3 separate regions of the Homo sapiens genome follow, and all the other regions are linked to region 2. Evidence: fine-mapped expression QTL. A gene starts in region 2. Each other region holds a variant in brackets. All regions are shown on one strand. Distances are between the middles of the regions. Region 1 overlaps EEF2K (eukaryotic elongation factor 2 kinase). Region 2 holds the start of EEF2K (eukaryotic elongation factor 2 kinase). Region 3 overlaps EEF2K (eukaryotic elongation factor 2 kinase).

Region 1 (4,196 bases), 84 kb before region 2:
GACCGGTCTTGAACTCCTAAGGCTGAGATATTTCTGCTAGAACATTCTGGAGCAACTTGTCTCTTTCTACAAACACATACTGAGCAGGATGCTTAATTAAGAGGAAGCCTGCAGGGAAACAGCTGATCCTGGAAGGCACAGCACCCTTTTGAGAGTTTCTTACAGTCCAGCAGCCCCTTACACAGTTTTCTCATGACAATCAGACATGAAATCAATGAGCAAGAGATGCAGAATGTTGCATCAGAACCCCTGGACCTACAAGGTCTCAGCAGCGGGATGCCTGACAAGGGAGGGATGGGCTGAAACTCCGACTATTCTTTGTGTGCCTGTCCCTATATCATAAACACTAGGCTGTGGATAGTGGAAATGGGTGTGGGGTCTCAGTCCTGGATCCCCTCCATTCTTTCCTCCCTTGCTCCCATAAAAGGAAAATGCTCTCAAACCTGGCCTGAGACCATATCTTTCTGTAAGAACCTCCTTCTGGAAAGAAACTAGCATTTCTGATAAATGCTCGAGCATTGAGCATTTTTCTTTTGAAATTTAAGAGCATTGAGATTTACACTGGGAAACTAGCTTTCTACTCACTCAGTTGATGGTCATTTGTCAGTCAAGAGTGCAGTGACCTTTAACGGAACATTCTTTTCTTTTCTATTTTGTCTAACAGTGATTATCTAATCATTTTCTTCTCCTAGAAAATGTCTCTATCAAGATAGAGGTCAGAAGAGTGGCCAACATTTTTCGGGGTGGAGAGAGGGTGTATTGCCTGGGAAGGGGTCCAGGGGGGCTTCTGTAGGCCTGCAAATGTTCTAATATCTTGAATTGGGTTGTTAAGACACAGATGTGTACAAATGTAAAAATTCATCAACCTGTATACTTAAGAGCGTGCAGTTTAATCTACATAGGCAGACTGTAATAAAAAATAAATTTTTAGAAAATGTCCCTACCAAGTATAAATCTTTGAATTCCCAGTGGGTTTACACTTGCAGCAAGACTGTGATTTTTTTTTTTTAAGATATGGGCTTTCACTGTGTTGACCAGGATGGTCTTGAACTCCTGGCCTCAAGCAATCCTCCCATCTTGGCCTCCCAAAGTGCCAGGGTTACAGGTGTGAGCCACCACGCCCGGTCAAGACTGTAATAAAATTTTGACGTATGCTGTAACAAAACCAACAGAAAAGTTTTCTTTATTAACTTCTCTCTAATCTTTTTTTTTTTTTTTGAAATGGAGTCTCATTCTGTCACCCAGGCTGGAGTACAGTGGTGTGATCTCGGCTGACTGCAACCTCTGCCTCCTGGGCTCAAGTGATTCTCCCGCCTCAGCCTGGCTAATTTTTATATTTTTAGTAGAGATGGTGTTTCACCATGTTGGCCAGGCTGGGCTCTAACTCCTGACCTCAAGTGATCTGCCCACCACAGCCTCCCAAAGTGCTGGGATTACAGGTGTGAGCCACGGTGCCAGGCCTCCTCGTGCCAATTTCTCAGCCTTGCAGGACTTGTTCAGCAATGAAAATTGGGTTTTTCTCAGATTTCTCTACTGCTGATCTAGGATCCAGACTTCTTGGGTCTGTTAATTCAATTACAGTCTACCTACTTTCCAGCACCCAAAACTTGCTGTTCAATCCTCTTTCTCTTCATCCTCACCGGCTTATGCTATTTAAAAACAAACAAACAAACAAAAAAACAAACAAAAGAATCCACTTCCTGTCATTGCAGTGGGGATTTAGGAACAAGTGGACCTAAATATGTATGTTCAACCTACCATGCATAGTTATACTAATGTTCAAATTTCTTAAAATTAAAAAAAATTAGCTTAAAACCAAAAGATCAACTGGTAACCAAGATTTTCTTAAGCTTGGAATTAAAAAAGCACTTTAGGCTGGGCGTGGTGGCTCACACCTGTAATCCCAGCACTTTGGGAGGCCAAGGTGAGTAGATCACCTGAAGCCAGGAGTTTGATACCAGCCTGGCCAACATGGTGAAACCCTGCCTCTACTAAAAATACAGAAATTAGCCAGGCATGGTGGTGTGCGCCTGTACTGCCATGCCAGCTACTAGGGAGGTCGAGGCGGGAGAATCGCTTGAACCCGGGAGGCGGAGGTTGCAGTGAGTTGAGATCGCACCACTGCACTCCAGCCCGGGTGACAGAATGAGACCCCATCTTAAAATAAATAAATAAAAATAAAAAAAA[AC/C]ACTTTACCATGTATTATCTTCTCTGAAGCTTACAACTCTGTAATGGTAAAAATTATTCTTCAGGCCGGGCACGGTGGCTCACGCCTGCAATTCCAGCAGTTTGGGAGGCCAAGGCCGGTGCATTGCTTGAGCCCAGGAGTTCGAGACCAGCCTGGGCATGATGGCAAAACCCTGTCTCCACTGGAAGAAAGGAAAAAACAAGATGAAACACAACCTGCCCCCCTTCAAAATTAGCCGGGCGCGGTGGTGCTCACCTGTAGTCCCAGCTACTCGTGAGGAGGCTGAGGTGGGAGGATAACTTGAACCTCGGAGGCAGAGGCTGCAGTGAGCCAAGATCTTGCCACTGCACTCTAGCCTGGGCAACAGAGTGAGACTGTCTGAAAAACAAACAGAAAAACTCTATGTTTTATAGATGAGCAAATGAAGAAACGAGAGGTTCTAATACTTTCTCTAAAGCAAACTGACAGCAGACGAGCCAAATCTGGAAGGCTTTGAAAAGTTATTAGAATTTATTACAAATGTTAAAGAACAGAAGGCCTTGCATTAAAAAAAAAAAAGTTTTCAGCAGCTCTTGAAAAATTGGAAAATAGGGTAACATTGAGCCCGCGCTTCCCATGGTGGCAATCATTTGAAGTTGAATCATGGCTGCCCCTTTCAGATGGGGTATGAGCCTTCTCGTTGACCCCTGCCTGCAGCAGCTTTATTTATTTATTTATTTATTTATTTATTTATTTGAGACAGTCTTGCTCTGTCGCCGAGGCTGGAGTGCAGCGGCGTGATCTCAGCTCACTGCAAGCTCCACCTCCCGGGTTCACGCCTTTCTCCTGCCTCAGCCTCTCGAGTAGCTGGGACTACAGGCGCCTGCCACCACGCCCAGCTTTTTTTTTTTTTTTTTTTTAATGTATTTTTAGTAGAGACGGGGTTTCACCATGTCAGTCAGGATGGTCTCGATCTACTGACCTTGTGATCCGCCTGCCTCAGCCTCCCAAAGTGCTGGGATTACAGGCGTGAGCCACCGCACCCGATCCCCCACCTTTTTTTTTTGAGATGGAGTTTCGCTCTTGTTGCCCAGGCTGGGGTGCAATGACAGGATCTGGGCTCACTGCAACCTCCATCTTCCGGCTTTAAGCAATTCTCCTGTCTCAGCCTCCTGAGCAGATGGGACTACAGGTGTGCGCCACCATGCCCGGCCAATTTTTGTATTTTTAGTACAGACAGGGTTTCATCATGTTGGCCAGGCTGGTCTGGAACTCTTGACCTCAGGTGATCCCGCCCGCCTCGGCCTCCCAAAGTGCTGGGATTACAGGCGTGAGGCACCACGCCTGGCCATTTTTTTTTTTTTTCCAAACCAGGAGACATTTGAGTCTGAGACAGAAAAGAAAGAAAACACTTTATTTGTAAAGAGAAAATGGAACTTAGTACATATGCCAAAATAAATCTGTAACGCAGGCCACTTCTCTGGGCCCCATCTTGAGTAGGTTAAAGGGTCACCTTAGAGACTAGAAACACAATTAAGAGGCACAAATCCACACAGAAAATATGCATATTTTGTCTCCTTTCCCCCCAAAACAAGCTGCATATACTTGTGTAAACTTGTTGATTTGTAAAACATGTCTAGTACTGCAGACAAATGTGTGGGATGAAAGGAAATAAAAGCCATGAAAACAGGGCCAGGTGCAGTGGCTCACGCCTGTAACCCCAATGCTTTGGGAGGCTGAGGTGGGAGGATCACTTGAGGCCAAGGAGTTCAAGACCAGCCTGGGCAACATAGTGAAACTCTGTCTCTGCAAAAAATAATTTTAAAAAATTAGCCAGGCGTGGCTTGGCACGGTGGCTCATGCCTGTAATCCCAGCACTTTGGGAGGCCGAGGCAGGTGGATCACCTAATGTCAGGAGTTTGAAACCAGCCTGGCCAACATGGTGAAACCCCCGTCTCTACTAAAAATACAAACATTAGCTGCGCGTGGTGGCAGGTGCCTGTAGTCCCAGCTACTCGGGAGGCCGAGA
Region 2 (4,196 bases):
CAGCCAAAAAGTACTGTACAGTTACAAAAAGCACAAGAAAAACAAATTGGTGGATCTTTTTTATTTTTTGAGACAGAGTCTCGCTTTGTTGCCCAGTCTAGAGTGCAGTGGTGCAATCTCAGCTCCCTGCAAACTATACCTCCTGGGTTCAAACGATTCTCGATTCTCCTGCCTCAGCCTCCCGAGTAGCTGGGATTACAGGCTCATGCCAACATGCCCAGCTAATTTTTGTATTTTTAGTAGAGATGGGGGCTCCCTATGTTGGCCAGGCTGGTCTCAAACTCCTGACCTCAAGTGATCCACCTTCCTCAGTCTCCCAAAGTACTGAGATTAAAGGCCTGAGCCACCACGCCCCTGGCCCAAAACACCGGTAGCTCTTGGAATGTACACCGATGATTATGTGTAAACTGTGACCACTTCAGTTCTGTCTTCTGGCCTCCCCATTCCCTGCAGAGGATAAGAACTTCGGACCCCACCCCCTTCTTTGAGAATGGGGGCTGAGAGGAGGGCGGACGCCAATCCCAGCCATGTTACACTGAAATTCATGTCCTTGAGAGGTTTTACTGTAGTTGTTGAATTAATAGCTGAACAAAGGAATGAACATCGGGTGCTGTGGAGGCCACACAGAAGGAAGACACCTGCATACGCCATCTCTGAACTCTACCTCCTTCCACCTGCCTCTTCCCCAGCTCAGCTTAAACAGCACTTGCTACAGGAAGCCTTCCCCCATAACCCTCTCCCCTTTACACACACAGTGGGCATTCTCAGCTCCCACCTGCTTGCTCTGTATTCCCATTTACTCCATCTCGCTTTTTAGAATCTGTTTATGTGACTGGCTTCCTCTTAGGGAGCTTCTGTGGGCCTGGGGATCACTCTGACCCTCGGTTTCCTCCTCGCTAAAAACATTAGGATAGACTACGTGACTCAATTCGCTGTGACTTCACAGCCTGTCCAGGGCCCTCAACCACAGGGCTCTTGGCCATCAGATGTCTCCCGGGGCCATAGACTATGACACTGTGTGCCAGGCACTGTTCCAAGCACCTGACATATACATACTCATCTACTCTTTCCAAGGATACTAAGTGGTAGATACTAATACTGTACCCATTTTACCGATGAGAAAACCGAGGGCCAGAGAGCATAAATGAGCTAGAATTCCAACCCAGGACTCCAGCCCTAGTGTTTCCTGCTTTCCTGGCTGAAGAAGCACCCACCACCGAGGTCCCAGAGGTCGGGCTCCCTGGGACCGTCCCCCTGGGCAGATCTCACTTCCCCATGCGGCCCATCTGTCACACTCAGGGCGCAGCTGGGCTGGTTCCCCGAAATCCCCCAGGCGCGCGCAAAAGGATCTAGGCCGGGGCTTACCCGGGAGGCCCCCACCCCCGCGCGGCCACCGGCTTATTAATGCCCAGCCCCTTGGCACACATGTCAGCAGCGCCTGCCAACAAACTCCCGCAGCCAACAATGCAGCAAGGGCGCGTCTATACAGTCCTGGAGGTTCCGGGAATTCGGGCTGACGCAGGCCTCTAGTTCAGGGGAAAGGTGGGGGATGCGGCTCTGAGCCCTGCAGGGGACAGGAAGGCAGCGATGCGCCCACACTCTAGGGGCCCCGAGGGGGGAGGCCCCCAAACTCTCTGTCACTTGCAGCCAGATCACCGCCCATTGCTTGCCAATTGCTTTCCATATCCACATCGCCTTTAATCCGCACAACTTCCCCATTTCTCCAAAGCAAGCACTTAGCCCCAGAGAGTTTAACAACCAGAGGAGAAGCGCCCCCACACTCTCCTTCCATGCCTTCTCCGGCCCCATTCCCAAGCCCAGACCCAGCACGCTCCAGACGCCAGCTGCACCCGGGCGCACAGGCCTGCAGCGCGGGCTCCCAGCCCCCCACAGCCTTGCCGGCCGCGGTCCACACCTACCTCCCTCGGGCAGACAGGCGCGGCAGCCGCTGCCCACGGCCGCGAGGGTCCAGAGGAGTTGGCAGAGGCTCGCGGCCCGGAGCTCCAGGGTGCAGGGCGGGCGGGCCCCCCGAGAGTGCCGGGGAGCGGAGAGCGGGGAGCGCTAGCTGGCGCTCCGGGCAAGCAGCTGGGGCCACGCGGGGTAGATGGACCGATCCCAGGGCGCGCGGGGCAGTCGGAGTGATCCCAGGAAGGGCGCAGGGGCCGTTGGGACGATCCCGGGATGTGGGAGCGCGTGCCAGGGGGGACTCGCGTGCAGGCGACAGCGAGCGGGACTCGGGTGGCTGCAGGGCCGGGAGTGCGGGCGCTCGATCCAGGAAGGAGGGGAGCTGAGGCTGAAGCTGGGGCTGGTCTAGGTTGAGCAGAAGCGGGCGGGCAGGGGCGGGGCTGGCCTGGCGGGCGCACGGCGTGGCGCTCACGTGGCCGCCCCCAGGTGGCCATCACAGCGCCTGCAGCCGCCTAGCGGGCCTCCTGGCTCCGGCGCTGGCTCCCAGCCCCAGGTGCAATGGTTAGCGCTAAGTCTTGGCTCCCCCTGCTGAGTACACAGTGTCCGGTTCTCCTGCTCAAGGCTGGCCTAGCATCCGGCAGCGAGGGGGCAATTCGAGGGAGTGACCAACTTCCGTCCTCTCCCGCCGCGCCTCGCCATTCTCGCCTGCTTCTCGCTTAGTTCCTGTATTCCTGTCCTTTCCAAAATCATTAGTGATCCAAGCCCATCGCTTGTTTGTATGTATCTCTATCCATAACCTTAAAATATTTTTTATCGGAAATACTTTGTTTTTCCTGATTTCTGCTTTGTAAAAACAGGCACGTATGACGATTGCAATTATTTGTGTAGTTTTAAAATTAGTATCTCCTTTAGTTATTCCTAACTCTTGACACAGGGCCTGGGTGGCACACAGTAGATGCTTAATAAATACCTGTGGCATGAGTGGTAGAGTGGCTAAGGTATAAAAAAGAAAACGAATTAAAACTAATAGCTACTGTGAACACTTTAATATTAGGTCCTTCCAGATACTTTGTTAGTGAAATTTTAGAAATTTCACACATTCTAGATAGAAAAGTAGTAACAATGACATGTTTTGAGGGATTTCTCTCATTCCATCTTCCCAGCACTTTGGGAGGCCGAGGCCGGCAGATCACCTGAGGTCAGGAGTTCGAGACCAGCCTGGCCAAAACGGTAAAACCCTGTCTTTAGTAAAAATACAAAAAAGCAGCCGGGCGCGCCTGTAGTCCCAGCTACTCTGGAGGCTGAGGCACGAGAATCGCTTGAACCCTGGAGGCAGAGGTTGCAGTGAGCCGAGATCGCGCCACTACACTCCAGCCTGGGTGAAGGAATGAGACTCCGTCGCAAAAAAACAAAAACAAAAAAATAAAAAAGAAAAAAGAACAAAACTGAGGCTTATAGAGATAATGACATGCCCCAGGTGAGGCAGCTAGAAAAGGCAGAGCCAGCAGTAAATCCAGACTTCTCTGATTTCAAAGTTCAGGCTCTCCAAAGAACTTTTTTCCTTATTTATAAACCCCAAAGAGAGTAAACTCCAGCTTTTGGCAAGACAAAATTGCACCTGGAATTCTGACCCTGGGGCCGTCAGGCAGGAAGGGAAGATCAAAGATGCTGAACTAGTCTGTCCAAGCCCAAAGCAAGATTGGAAAAAAAAAAAAGACGCTACTGCTTAAAGCTCTATGGCCCTTGGGCAAGTTATTTTACTTCTCTGAGCCTCTGTCATTTTTGTCTGCCCAGCAGGAGTGTCCTTCTTTGCATTAGCGTCTTGGTTAGTCTTCAGGGAACCAGTTCACCCTATTTCAGTTCAGGAAAATAGCCCTCCCCACTCCCCTGGCTCCAAAAATGGACACATGACCAGACCTGGCCAATTAGCATATTTCATCCCTTCAGCCTCATTGATTGGTTCAGGGATGAGCATGTGATCCAAGTTAGGCCAGTGAAATACTAATCTGGGCCTTTTATAGTAACCATAAAAAGAGAATGTCTCTTTTCCAGGGAGTTGAGCAGATAGGATGTAATAGTAGAGTTTCTGAGCATTAATTCTTATGGCAAATTTTATTAAGCTCCTATTGTGTGCCAAATATGGTGCTAGGAATTGGGGGAAACATTTGCCTTCAAGGAGATGTCTACTGCGGTAAAATAAAATTACTCAAGGCCGGGCAAGGTGGCTCACACATGTAATGTCAGAGCTTTGGGAGGCCAAGGCAGGAGGATCAATGGGGCCAGGAGTTCAA
Region 3 (4,196 bases), 34 kb before region 2:
CCATGAGCTGTTCCAAGATCTTGTGGGATGCAGGAAAATTCATCGTGCAGAACAGCCCTGTTTCAGGGTTGCTGGCATTCCCGGCCTTCCCTAACTCTATGCCAGCAGTGCCCACCACCCCATCATTATGATGGCCCAAAAGAACTCCCAAATCTATCAAAACCTATTGAGAGTAGCCAGGCATGGTGGCTCACGCCTGTAATCCCAGCACTTTGGGAGGCCGAGGCAGATGGATCATCCAAGGTCAGGAGCTCGAGACCAGCCTGGCCAACGTGGTGAAACCCCGTCTCTACTTTAAAAAAAAAAAAAGCTGGGTGCATACGTGTAATCCCAGATACTCGGGAGGCTGAGGCAGGAAAATCGCTTGAACCAGGAGGTGGAGGTTGCAGTGAATGGAGATCAGGCCACTGCACTCCAGCCTGGGTGACAGAGCAAGACTCTGTACCCAAAAAAAAGAGTCCAGCTTCCCAAGGACTCAGCCCAAACAGGGCTTCACCTCATCCCCAGCACTGGGTCCTGCTCAAAATAGAAGCAGCTCAGGCAGTGGAGCTGGGCCTTCCAATACACACACACAGAGCCCAGGCCTCTCACTCTCTCTAGGGCTTTCTTTTGTTTTTGGGTTTTTGTTTTGTTTTTTAAATAGGAATAAGGTCTCTCTCTGTTGTCCAGGCTACGTGGTGGTAGTGTGATCATAGCTCTCTGCAACCTCAAAACTCCTGGGCTCAAGCGATCTTCCTGCCTCAGCCTCCTGAGTAGCTGGGACTACACTTGTGTGTCACCATGCCCAGCTAATTTTTTTATTTTTATTTTTATTTTGCAGAGACCGGGTTGCACTACGTTTGTTGCCCAGGCTGGTCTCGAACTCCTGGCCTCAAGTGATCCTCCTGCCTCAACCTCCCAAGGAACTAGGATTACAGAGATGAGCTGCTGCACCTAGCCTGCTGGGGCTTTTTTACCTCTGCAGAGTTCAAAAAATAAAGCCTGTAATTCTTTTCTTCTATTTTGGTAGCTAATTTAGACTTAATTTAAAAGTTGGAGAATACAGAAGACAAAAGTCAAATCCACCATATACCATCCACTGGAGCAATGCCGTAGACTAATTCTTTTCCAGATCTTCTATATGTTTTTTTTTTTTTTTTTTTTTTTTTTGAGACAGTCTCCCTCTGTCACCCAGGCTAAAGTGCAGTGGGGTGATCTCAGCTCACTGCAACCTCCTGGGTTCAAGCAATTTTCCTGCCTCAGCCTCCTGAGTAGCTGGGATTACAGGCGTGAGCCAACATGCCTGGCTAATTTTTGTATTTTTAGTAGAGACGGGGTTTCACCATGTTGGCCAGGCTAGTCTCGAACTCCTGACCTCAGGTGATCCACCCGCCTTGGCCTCCCAAAGTGCTGGGATTACAGGCGTGGCCACCTTGCCCGGCCTACATGCATTTTTTAATAAGATTGGTATCATACCATAAAATATAATTCACCTCCTTACAGAAGAGTGGGTCAATGGGATTTTGTGCTTTATTTAGTGATCTCAATTTTTTTTTCTGATTCCAAAGTATGATCCACATCACATAAAAACTGCAAGCACTATAGAACTCTGAATT[A/T]GAAAGCGGAAGTCCTCCCTAATCCACTTCCTCTGAAAACCACAGCTGACAGTTGATGTAGACATTCTGCAAAATTTTTTCCTATGCCTCTGTGAACATAAACACATATTTAAGAGCAGTTTAGGCCGGGCGCGGTGGCTCACACCTGTAATCCCAGCACTTTGGGAGGCTGAGGCAGGCAGATCACAAGGTCAGGAGTTTGATACCAGCCTGGCCAACATGGTAAAACCCTGTCACTACTAAAAATACAAAAATTAGCCGGGCATGGTGGCACGAGCCTGTAATCCCAGCTACTTGGGAGGCTGAGGCAGGAGAATCGCTTGAACCCAGGAGGCGGAGGTTGCAGTGAGGCAAGAGAGCACAACTACACTCCAGCCTGGGCGACACAGTGAGACTCCATCTCAAAAAAATAAAAATAAAACAAAATAAAAAGAAAGAGCAATTGGACCACACCACATGTTCTGTTGTGCATCTGACTTTTCTTAATGTAAGATCTTGGACATCTTTCCATGTCATATGTGCAGACTGGCTGGGGTAACCTCCTTTCATTTCCAGAACTACCAGATATATAATTATATAAATGTACCTTAAGGTATTTGCCTAACCTCCAATTGAATAATGTTTGGGTTCCCTCCAACATTTCCTAGTACAAACAGTGCTGAAGTGAACATCTTCCTATCCAAATCTTGGGCGCTTGTGCAAGATCTCAGTAGTACATATTTTTTGGGAAATGTAACTGCTGGATCACATTTAAAATCTAGAAATGACTGAGTTCTCTGCCAAAAAATTTATCCCAAGTTATACTCCAAGAAGCAGTAAACAAATCACTAAAATTCTTTTGGCACAGACAGTACATCAGATAACTATAAAATTTATAAGTTATTTGCATCCTGCTTTAATAGTTGCATAATAATCTACTGTATAACTTTTTTGTTATTGACTTGATTATTCACCTGTTGCTCTCCACTGTTAGACTTCAAGCTTGTCACTGATTGCTCCCTGTTGTAAATAACCCCACAGCAGACATGTGTATGTCTAAAACATTTTTCTGAATTTCGGTCCCTGTACCTTTTTTTTTTTTTTTTTTTTGAGATGGAGTCTGGCTCTGTCACCAGGCTGGAGTGAAGTGGCATGATCTCGGCTCACTGCAACCTCTGCCTCCTGGGTTCAAGCGATTCTCCTGCCTCAGCCTCCTGAGCAGCTGGGACTACAGGCTTGCGCCACCACGCCCAGCTAATTATTGTATTTTTAGTAGAGACAGGGTTTCACCATGTTGGCCAGGATGGTCTCGATCTCTTGACCTTGTGATCCGCCTGCCTCGGCCTCCCAAAGTGCTGGGATTACAGGCATGAGCCTGGCCCCTGTACTTTTTCTCTTAAAGAGACAGGGTCTTGCTCTGTCACTCAGGCTGGAATGCAGTGGCATGATCACAGCTCACCGCAGCCTCAAACTCCTGGGTTCAAGTGATCCTCCTGCTTCAGCTTCCCGAATAGCTGGGATGACAGGCGCTTGCCATCATGCCTGGCTAATTTTTTAAATTTCTGTACAGACAGGATCTCGGTATGTTGCCCAGGCTGTTCTCAAACTTCTGGGCTCAAGTGATCCTCCTGCCTTGTCCTTCCAAAGCACTGGGATTACAGGCATGAGCCACCACGCCCAGCCCAATCCCCGTAACTTAAAGCACCAGTCTCAGCTCATATTCCGGCTGCTACAAATGGCAGGGACAGCCTTCGACCTCCACCTGTCAGGAGAGCCTGCAGGGTTGAGAATTCAGCAGGCCACCCTTCCAAGCATGTCTGTACAGGTGCCCTGTTCTCTGTCTACGACACACAATTCTCTGACAGTGCCTCTCTCAAACGACTCCGCCACTCCGTAAGCCACTAACAGGGACCGTCCCCATTCAGTGAAGATTAGCAACAGAAATTACCTCCTGGCTGGATGCCGTGGCACCAACCACAAAACAGGGAGGAAAGTACTGCAGAATTAGAGGGTGTGGTATTTCATAGAATAAAAATTACCTTTTTTCCAAACCCAGAACAGAGTCATGCCAGACCTTATTGGCAACAGGTGGGATTAATGCAACTGACTTTTTTTTTTTTAATAAGCACAGTATAAAAAGTACTGTACTAACATTCATGTCCCTGACTCTGGTTCCAGCTTACTGACTGGCTGTGGGAACCTCCATTTCCTTGTTTACAAACAAGGATGAAGAAGGTTTTGGCTGCTGGTGGTCCACTTTTTTGTGGCCCCTGCACCCAGGGTAGACACACTCCCACCAAAAACAGTGGCTCACTGGGGTGGCAGTGCTTATTATGGGTGACTCCTGCTGGAGCTACAAATCACCAGTAATGTTACCATCAGGTGGGGAATGGAAGCAGGTACTGCCATCTTTGAGAGCCACCTGGCAGTGGCTATGAACCTTCTTCTGCACCGACTTCTGACCCAGCCATTCCTATCACCTACCCAGGTGTGTCCAGGTAAGCTGGTCCAAGGATGATCAGTGCTTTTTTTTTTTTTTTTTTTCCTTTTTTCTTTTTTTTTGAGACCAGGTATTTATTACTTTGTTGCCTAGGCTGAAGTGCAGTGGTGGGATCATAGCTC

Evidence for each region. PIP is the estimated chance that this variant, and not a neighbour inherited with it, causes the effect.
Region 1: its variant is the best candidate, but not a certain one, in a credible set for the expression of EEF2K in T cells (TOPMed, PIP 0.62).
Region 3: its variant is the best candidate, but not a certain one, in a credible set for the expression of EEF2K in whole blood (INTERVAL, PIP 0.89).

Annotation. Positions count from the first base shown.
Region 1 is chr16:22,288,103-22,292,298 of GRCh38, reverse strand. It overlaps EEF2K (eukaryotic elongation factor 2 kinase), which reads right to left. Exons shown (of 18, transcript NM_013302.5): 18 at 3,561-4,196. Among named protein-coding and RNA genes, the nearest start is that of TRL-AAG2-4, 6.9 kb to the left of the region's middle. The variant AC/C (reference allele first, on the strand shown) is at 2,188.
Region 2 is chr16:22,204,403-22,208,598 of GRCh38, reverse strand. EEF2K (eukaryotic elongation factor 2 kinase) reads right to left here and starts at 2,321. Exons shown (of 18, transcript NM_013302.5): 1 at 1,920-2,321. RefSeq lists silencers at 1,821-2,090, 2,251-2,550.
Region 3 is chr16:22,238,590-22,242,785 of GRCh38, reverse strand. All of the region lies in intron 2 of EEF2K (eukaryotic elongation factor 2 kinase), which reads right to left. Among named protein-coding and RNA genes, the nearest start is that of EEF2K, 34 kb to the right of the region's middle. The variant A/T (reference allele first, on the strand shown) is at 1,596.